Linked DNA regions of Homo sapiens: region 2 is linked to region 1. The links come from fine-mapping of genetic effects on gene expression. Tissue or cell type: T cells. Region 1 holds a variant in brackets; the other region holds the start of a gene. All regions are shown on one strand. Distances are between the middles of the regions. Region 1 has its middle 34 kb from the start of LINC00398. Region 2 holds the start of ALOX5AP (arachidonate 5-lipoxygenase activating protein).

Region 1 (4,525 bases):
TTTTGGGATTCTGCCTACGTCACTGAGTCAAAAGAAGCTGAATGGTTGTGATGCTGAGGTTTTTGGGCAGCAGCAGTGTGTGTGTGTGAGTGAATTCATACGTATGACCACCTGGGAAGAAAGGAGGCTGTGGTTTCCTCCACCTCCTGGCAGACAGAGAAATTTCTTTTTTTTTTTGAGACAGGGTCTGGCTCTGTTACCCAGGCTGGAGTGCAGTGGCTTGATCTCTGCTCACTGGCTCACTGCAGCCTCTGCCTCCCAGGTTCAAGTAATTCTTGTGCCTCAACTCCAAGTAGCTGGGATTACAGACACACACTGCCACGCCTGGCTAATTTTTGTATTTTTAGTAGAGACGAGGTTTTGCCATGTTGGCCAGGCTGGTCTTGAACTCCTGACCTCAAGTGATCCGCCCACCTCAGCCTCCCAAAGTGCTGGGATTACAGACGTGAGCCACCATTAACCATTTTTCTATCTCCTGTGGGAAAGGGCACAGTGAAAGAACAGATGAAGCTGAGACATACAAGTGAACTCCTCCCTCCTCTCCATTTAGACTAAAATAGGATTATTCATACTGAGATTCTCCCTGGTTGCAAAGAGATAATCTGTGCAACTGGGTTTTTACAATTATCCCTACCCTATGCTTTCCTCATCTGTCTTCCTCGTAGTCAGCTCAGGCTGCTATAACAAAACACCATAACTGGGGGCTTTTGAACAACAAAACTTTACTTCTCACAGTTCTAGAGGCTGGAAATCCAAGATCAAGTTTCTGGCAGATTCGGTGTCTAATGAGGTCCTGCTTTCCAGTTTATAGACAGTGCCTTATCGCTACCGCCTTACACAGTGGAAGGAGAGGACGAGAAGCTCCTTGGGCTTTTTTTTGTTTCTTTCTTTCTCTCTCTCTCTCTTTTTTTTTTTTTTAATAAGGTCACTATCTTAGTCCATTTTGTGTTGCTAAAAGGAACATCTGAGGTTGAGTAATTTATTTTATTTTAAAAAGTGGCCAGGCATGGAGGCTTATCCTGTAACCCTAATCCTTTAGGAGGCCAAAACAGCAGGATTGTTTGAGGCCAGGAGTTCAAGACCAGCCTAGGCAAGATAGTGAGACCCCATCTACCCCATCTCTACTAAAATTTTAAAAAATTAGCTGTGTGTTGTAAAGTGTGCTTGTAGTCCCGGCCACTTGAGAGGCTGAGGTGGGTGGAGTTCAAGGCTGCAGTGAGTTATGATTGAGCCACTGCACTCCAACCCGGGTAACGGGGCAAGACCTTGTCTCTATTTAAAAAAAAAAAATCTTTATGTGGCTCACTATTCTGGGTGGCTGGAAAGTTCAAGATTGGGCATCTGCATCTGGTGACAGCCTCATGTCGCTTCCAGTCATGGGGGAAGACGAAGGAGAGCTGGCACGTGCAGATATCACGTGTTGAGGGCAGAAGCGAGAGAGAGAGGGGAGAGATGCCAGGCTCTTTTTAACAACCAGCACTGGGGAAACTAATAGAGTGAGAGCTCACTGACTCCTGAGGGAGGACATTAATCTATTGATGAGCGACCTGCCTCCATGACCCAAACACCTCCAACGATACCCCACCTCCAACACTGCCACACTAGGGATTAACTTTCAACTTGAGATTTAGAGGGGGGAAACTTACAAACTATCGCAGGCACTAATACCACTCATGAGGGCTCCACCTTCATGACCTAATCACTTCCTAAAGGCCTTACCTCTTAATCTCATCACATTGAGGATTCGATTTCAACTTGAATTTTGGGGGGACACCAACATTCAGGCCATAGCATCATCTCAATAACTGTCCCATTGGTGGTCACTCAGGCCCCAAACAAAGGAACCTTCCTCCATTCCTTTCCGCCCTCCCACCCACAGTCAATCATCCCCAAGCTCCATCAGCTCCACCTTTAACGGCCAACCCACCTCTGCCACATCTCACCATCTCCACTGCTATCCCTGTCACCTGGGCCCACCATTCTCTCTCCTGGACAGTCTCCATAGCCACCTCTGTCAGATTTATTTTATTTTTTTATTTTTTTTTTTGAGACAGGTTCCTGCTCTGTTGCCCAGACTGGAGTGCCATGGCATGATCACATCTCACTGCGGCCTCCATCACCTGGGCTCAAGCAATCCTCCCATCTCAGCCTCCCAAGTAGCTGGGACTACTGGCACCACCATACCTGGCTAATTTTTTGTTGTTGTTGTTTAATTTTTAATACAGATGAAGCCTCACTATGTTGCCCAGGCTGCTCTTGAACTCCTGGGCTCAAGTGATCCTCCGGCCTTGGCCTCCCAAAGTGCTGGGATTACAGGCATGAGCCACCGTGCCCAGCCCATCAGATGTTAATGCTACACGCACTTGCTTAAAATCCCCCAGATAATTCTCGCTGCTCTTGGAATAATTCCCACACACCTTGGCGTGGCCATGCAGGCTCTGTGCCATC[G/A]GATATGTCCCTGCCCCCTCTCCCAACTCCTCCTTTCGCTTGCTCGTTCACTCAGTTCCAGCCACATTGCCCTGGGAGCTGCTCCCACCATGGGGCTTCCTAATGCACTGGTCTCTCTCATGCAGTGGGGCCTCTCCCTCCTTTTACTCAGTGTCTCCCAGCACCCACCTCCTCCAGAGCCTTCCCTGACCACCACACCTACACCTAGGCCCTTCCTCCTCCACGCTCCCTCCTCCACCCCGGCCTCCTACCCACGTGTCACTTCTTTATACTCGCTGCCACCTGAAATTAGATCATTTATTTACCCCTTTATTTGTTCAGTTTGCCTTGTCCGTTAGAATATAAGCTTCCAAAGGGCAGGAGCTTTGCCTATATTGTTAGGCCGGGCATACAATGAGCACTCAAAAAAATATTTGATGAGTGTATGAAAGAACAGACTGGGTTATGTAATTGTGCCTACTTACCTATATGACCGTGTGGTGGGGTTTATGGTGGGTGTGGTGGTGATGGCTATAGGGCTATAAGCAAATTTGGGACAGGGAGTCTAAGAAATGTTCTTAAATTTTAGTAAGCAAAGCATCCTCTACAGAACCTGTCTTAAAACATGAAAGTTCCTTAGTGCTACCCCCAGAGGTATGATTTGGTAGGTCAAGGATAGGGCCTGGAAATTCACATTCTTGTTAAGATGTTCTTCATCCGGGGTTTGTTGACCACCTTTTCAGAAGATTTTTGCTCTGTAGCTGTACTACCCAATGCAGTAGTTCGTAGTCAGTGTGGCTCCTGAGCCCTTGAAGTGTAGCTCCTCTGAACTGAGACGTGCTGTAAATGTAAATTGCACACCGGAGTTTGAAGAGTTAATACAAAGAAAAAGGAATGCAAAACATCTCATTAATAATGCTTTACACTGATTACATATTGAAATGGTAATCTTGTAGATATAGTGCGTTAAATAAAATATACTGTTAGGCTTAATTTCACGTCTTTATACTTTTAATGTGGCTACTAGAAAAATTTAAATAACATATTCAGCTCACATTATACTCCTATTGAACAGAGCTGATCTATAAGTTCCATGGAAGATGGCAAGTCTTCGCAGCTGAAATAAAGGCTGGATCCCATTCTACGGGCTCATCTTTAGCAATGATTTCTTGCAGACGATATTGAAAAATGTGGCAATGAAAGTTACCACAAGCATCAAACCAGTCCTGCCTAAATCTGGAAAATAGTTATCTGAGGCTGTTAGCATATGATCATGAGAGCGTTTCACCATGGATTTCTGATCACAGATGTGGCACATTATTAAAATATCACTTTTACAGTCACCCTAGAGGCTAGGGTTATCTGAATATGGAGAAAGAAACAGCTTGTGGAGCTGTTGTATAAATGAAATTACTAGAAAGTAATGCACTCAATTGCATATTGGCTCGGGGGGTTATTCTTATTAAAATGTTTAGAGAGGACTTTCTGTTCATTTCTGCAGAATTGCTCTTCAAATTAAGAATTTGCTTGACACGCTAATAGACCACAGTCCCAAGAGAAGTTTATCCTTTTTTCTTCTTATCCTTGCTAAGCACTTAGATGCTCTGCTGATAGGTAGCATATATTGTCTATATGAAGCTTTTGTGTTAACATTGACTAGTCCTGCAAGTTGGCACACTCTTACTTGGCCTAAAAGAAATCAGCACCAGGCTTTAAGAAAATCAGATGATCTACCTAAAGGAACACAACTCTGTCTCTCTTTTGACAATTGTTGTAAACAAATTTTAATGGAAATTTGCCTTAATTGTGAAGAAGTTGCTGCTAAAATGGACTTGCCATTAATGGACTGGAACCCATTGCATAAGCAGAATGAAATATAAGCCTTCTCAGGATTCACACTTATAAAAAACCATTCAGCCAATCAACAAGAGGGCAAAAGAACAAACATTTGATGTGTAATTACTTAATTTAGTGCATATGCATTTGGGTCCTCAATGTCAGCACTATGGCAACCAGAACATGGCCACAATAACTGTCTGGAAATGTCTATTCTTACCTGGACCCAGCAGGCCATGCCCCACTGATTATATAATCTCCC
Region 2 (4,063 bases), 34 kb before region 1:
ACCTAAACATCCCCTGAAACTTACCAAACTGCAGGTATGAATTGGATCTCACTAAGGTGAATATACAAATCTTGCAAGTGCTGAGCCCTAACCAATCTTGTAATAACTCTGTGGTAGTTAATTTTATGTCAAATTGATTGAGCTAAAAAATGCCCAGGTAGCTGGTAAAATGTTTTTTTCTGGGTGTGTTAGGGAGGGTGTTTCTGAAAGAGATCAGCACTGGAATCAGCGGACTAAGTAAAGAATTCCCACCCTCACCAATATGGTGGGTGTCATCAATCCACTGAGGGCCTGAATAGAACAAAAAGCGGGCAGAAGGGCAAATTCCCTCTTCTTCTTGAGCTGGGCCATCCATCTTCTCCTGCCCTTGGACACTGGAGCCCCTTGTTCTCCAGCTTTTGGATTCAGACTGGGTCTTGCACCATTGCCCTCCATCTTCTCCTGCCCTTGGACACTGGAGCCCCTTGTTCTCCAGCTTTTGGATTCAGACTGGGTCTTGCACCATTGCCCTCCTTGATGCTCAGGCCTTTGAATGCAGACTGGTCTCCACCAGCAGCTTTTCTGAGTCTCCAGCTTGCAGATGGCAAACCATGAAACTTCATGGTGTCCATGAGCATGTGAACCAATTTCTATTATAAATCTGCAATATATATATATGAGGAGACTTATTTATATATTGGTTCAGTTTCTCTGGAGAGCCTTGGCTAATATAAAGTCTATACTCTACAAAGTGCCCTAGGTACTCAGGGAGTACCCAAGTGTGTCATGACCAGCCCGACAGCCCTGGCTGCTGGCTTCCCCGCACACAACTCTGCACGCTGCCTTCATCAGCCTTTCTCTCTCAGCTGAACCGAGGGCATTGAAGCGGGCCTCTGGCACTGTACCTATGAGGGAGCAATATCTTCCCCTACACTGACCTCTTCCGTGCCGAGATGCAGCCCTCCCTGCTGCCACTAGTTACAGTGGTCCATGTTCCCTTTCAAAGTGAAGTTTTGATAAAAGCACCTCTTAACCAATGCCAAATAGCTAAGTCTGGGACAAAGATTGCAGGTATTTTGCATTTTCCATGTAACCTCAGAGGGATTGCCATTCACACTGATCTGAGCTGCAGAATACCAGGCAGCCACCTCACCCACCCAGCAGGTCCACTCTTATACTTTCTCAGAAAGCACAGCCACTCTACTCTTATTCAGTTGAAAAGAATTTCCAGGAAGGTGTTTCTGCGATTGCCTCAGAAAAGTCAGTTCCCTTTGGGAATTTCCCTTAGGGATCATCTGTAACTCCATTTCTGCCTTTTACCTGAATTCTTTGGTTTGGTTTGAATTCTTTGGTTTAATTTATGAATTCCCTTTATTACTTTTCTCTGAAGAAATGGAGATATCAGCTGTCCCTCCCCACTGCCATTTATTCCTTCCTTCATTCAAACCTTATGTGGCTGCTACTTACCGTGTGTTAAGTGTTCACTTTTTTTCTTGGAATTCAAAAAAAGAAGGACAGTATTTGGGGCACAGATCTTTTGGTGTTCTATACATTTTTTTAAAGTTTCATTTTACATTTGTGTGTGCGTGTGTGTGTGTGTGTGAGACAGTCTTGCTCTGTTGCCCAGGCTGGAGTGCAGTGGCATAATCATTGGCTCACTGTAGCCTCAAAGTCCTGGGCCCAAGCAATCTTCCCACCTCAGCCACCCAAAATGCTGGGGTTACAGGTTTATGCCACTCTGTCTGACCTGAAAGTTTTGGGTTTACTTTCCCTTCTTTCTCTTTGCTGAAGTCAGAGATGATGGCAGCTTCCAGATTCTCTGGTGCCTGTGCTGGGCTCGTGCTGGTCATGGTCTTGGGTCCAGGATTCATTCTGGAGACTCTCAGGGAAGTTTCCCATGACAAGGAAATGTAGGAGAGTGTGCTGGCTTTGCGTGCTCCTCTGCCAAGCCCTGCTTCTCCTGGTGGGACACACTGAACCACAGCCAGGGCATTTTGGTGGTTAGTTAAAAAAAAAAAAAAAAAAAAAAAAAGGAAGAAGAAGGCACTGTGTAATTGTGCCGGGGATCTTCAGAAATTGTAATGATGAAAGAGTGCAAGCTCTCACTTCCCCTTCCTGTACAGGGCAGGTTGTGCAGCTGGAGGCAGAGCAGTCCTCTCTGGGGAGCCTGAAGCAAACATGGATCAAGAAACTGTAGGCAATGTTGTCCTGTTGGCCATCGTCACCCTCATCAGCGTGGTCCAGAATGGTAAGGAAAGCCCTTCACTCAGGGAAGAACAGAAGGGGAGATTTTCTTTGATGGTTGTTTGGAAGTCAGGCTTAAACAATTGTGTCTGTGTGTGCGCATGCACAAACACTTTTACCTTATCTTTATTTTCTTCTTTTTATTTGAATGTATAGGGTTGTGTGTATTTCTGTGTAAATTTGGGGTTTTCCTCCTCTTAGTCTTTCACTTTTGTGGTGATTACCAGTCCCATTTTTAGAGCCAGGGCTGCAACTTGAAGGTTTTGCTAAAACCCTCACCGAAGTGTCTATGATCAGCATTTTAACTATTAATTAATGTGGCCAGGCAAGGGGTGGAAGGTGAGAAGACTAGAAAGGGAACATGATATACACATTTACTCAGATACTGGGCTTTTCTAACATCTGCAGTGCAATTGAAGTTACCAGTCATCTGCAGTCTAAAAAGAAAGTGATTTTGGGAGGTGCGTAGAAAAAATCATCTTATTATTTTTCCTCTATATTACTTTTTTCTTTTTTTCTCCTGAAGAAACTTTTTTTTTTGGTGATACCTTCTTTTTCTCTAGCACGTATAATTTTGGAAGCATTTTTCATATGCAGTGTATACTTCAGAAAGAGAGAGAGAGAGAGGAAAATTGTCCTGTTCAGCGTTTGCATTTCCATTATTCCTGCTATTAGTTAAAAACAACAACAACAACAAAAAACAAGCAGGATACCTAGATCTGGAAAAGGGAGAATTGTGTAGAGCTGTCTTCCTAAAGTTCTGAGTTAGGGCTGCCTCAGACCACTTTCATAACTATCTCCAGTGGCTTTGTGTTTTATATTTATTAAGATAGAGAAAAAAAGAGTAATTACTAAGGGCAGCTGCTGTAGCTTTATGGTGATTACTGAACATTGACATGCTGTCACGTTTTTGGAACTTTGAGTATTTAATCACTTTGGGATATTCTATTTTCCCCCATCTTGAGTGTGGACAGATGCTGGTGATGTAGCCTTCTGGGCACAGAGCAAGCCTCCCCCTCAGCCTCTGCACCAGAAAGGCTCAGCTTCACACACTCCAAGTATGTTTTCTACAAGAACTACACTTTGTGGCTTTCTGACCCAAACATTTTTATACTAAATTACACACAACAAAGTTGTAGCTCAGAGAGGGAACAAATGGCTTATTTAGGCCACCATTTTCTTGAGCCATTATGATTTCACACAGGGCTCCCTTGGCCCTGTAAATTGGCAAGGATTCCATTATTCAACCCGCATACATGTACAGAGACCCTGCTCTGGCCCAGATAGTATTCTGGGTACAGGCGGATAGAGCAGGAAACAAAACAGCTACAGTGATGGACAGGTCAGCCTGCAGCAATGCCTGCAGTCTCTGCAAAGGTAGCTGTATGGGTGGGCAGGTGGCTAGCACTTATTCAGCTCTGGAAGGATCTCCCCTCTGGCCTCTCCCCTGACACCCATCAATAAAACTGAGGAGCATCGGTGGACAGGGGACCTTGTGCCCCCTCCCTGCCTGTGCAGTTGGGGCTGAACCCAGCTACGAAGTTTGAGCTCACTCTCTCCAGCTCCCTCTCAATTCAGAGCTGAACTGTGGGAAGCTTCAGAGCTCTCTGTTTCAAGGACAGGTTCTCCTCACCTCTCCTAATGGAGGTGCACCAGGGAACTGGCCCTGCTCTGCCCAGGGCTTTCTCCTGGACTTTGCCATCATGGTCTAGCAAACCCTGTTCAGATTGAGGTGAGTGGTGAGATTTCGAATTCTTTTTGACAGATAGGATTAAGTCTTCTTCTGTGGGACAAGTGGGAGGTAGAGGTAAGATTAAAGATGGCCAAATGTCTGAGTCCT

Evidence for each region. PIP is the estimated chance that this variant, and not a neighbour inherited with it, causes the effect.
Region 2: it holds the start of ALOX5AP, and the variant in region 1 is the best candidate, but not a certain one, in a credible set for the expression of ALOX5AP in T cells (TOPMed, PIP 0.76).

Annotation. Positions count from the first base shown.
Region 1 is chr13:30,767,338-30,771,862 of GRCh38, forward strand. No RefSeq gene overlaps it. Among named protein-coding and RNA genes, the nearest start is that of LINC00398, 34 kb to the right of the region's middle. The variant G/A (reference allele first, on the strand shown) is at 2,449.
Region 2 is chr13:30,733,449-30,737,511 of GRCh38, forward strand. It overlaps ALOX5AP (arachidonate 5-lipoxygenase activating protein), which reads left to right and starts at 2,095. Exons shown (of 5, transcript NM_001629.4): 1 at 2,095-2,227. The coding sequence starts at 2,158. All of the region lies in intron 2 of LOC124903146 (a long non-coding RNA gene), which reads right to left.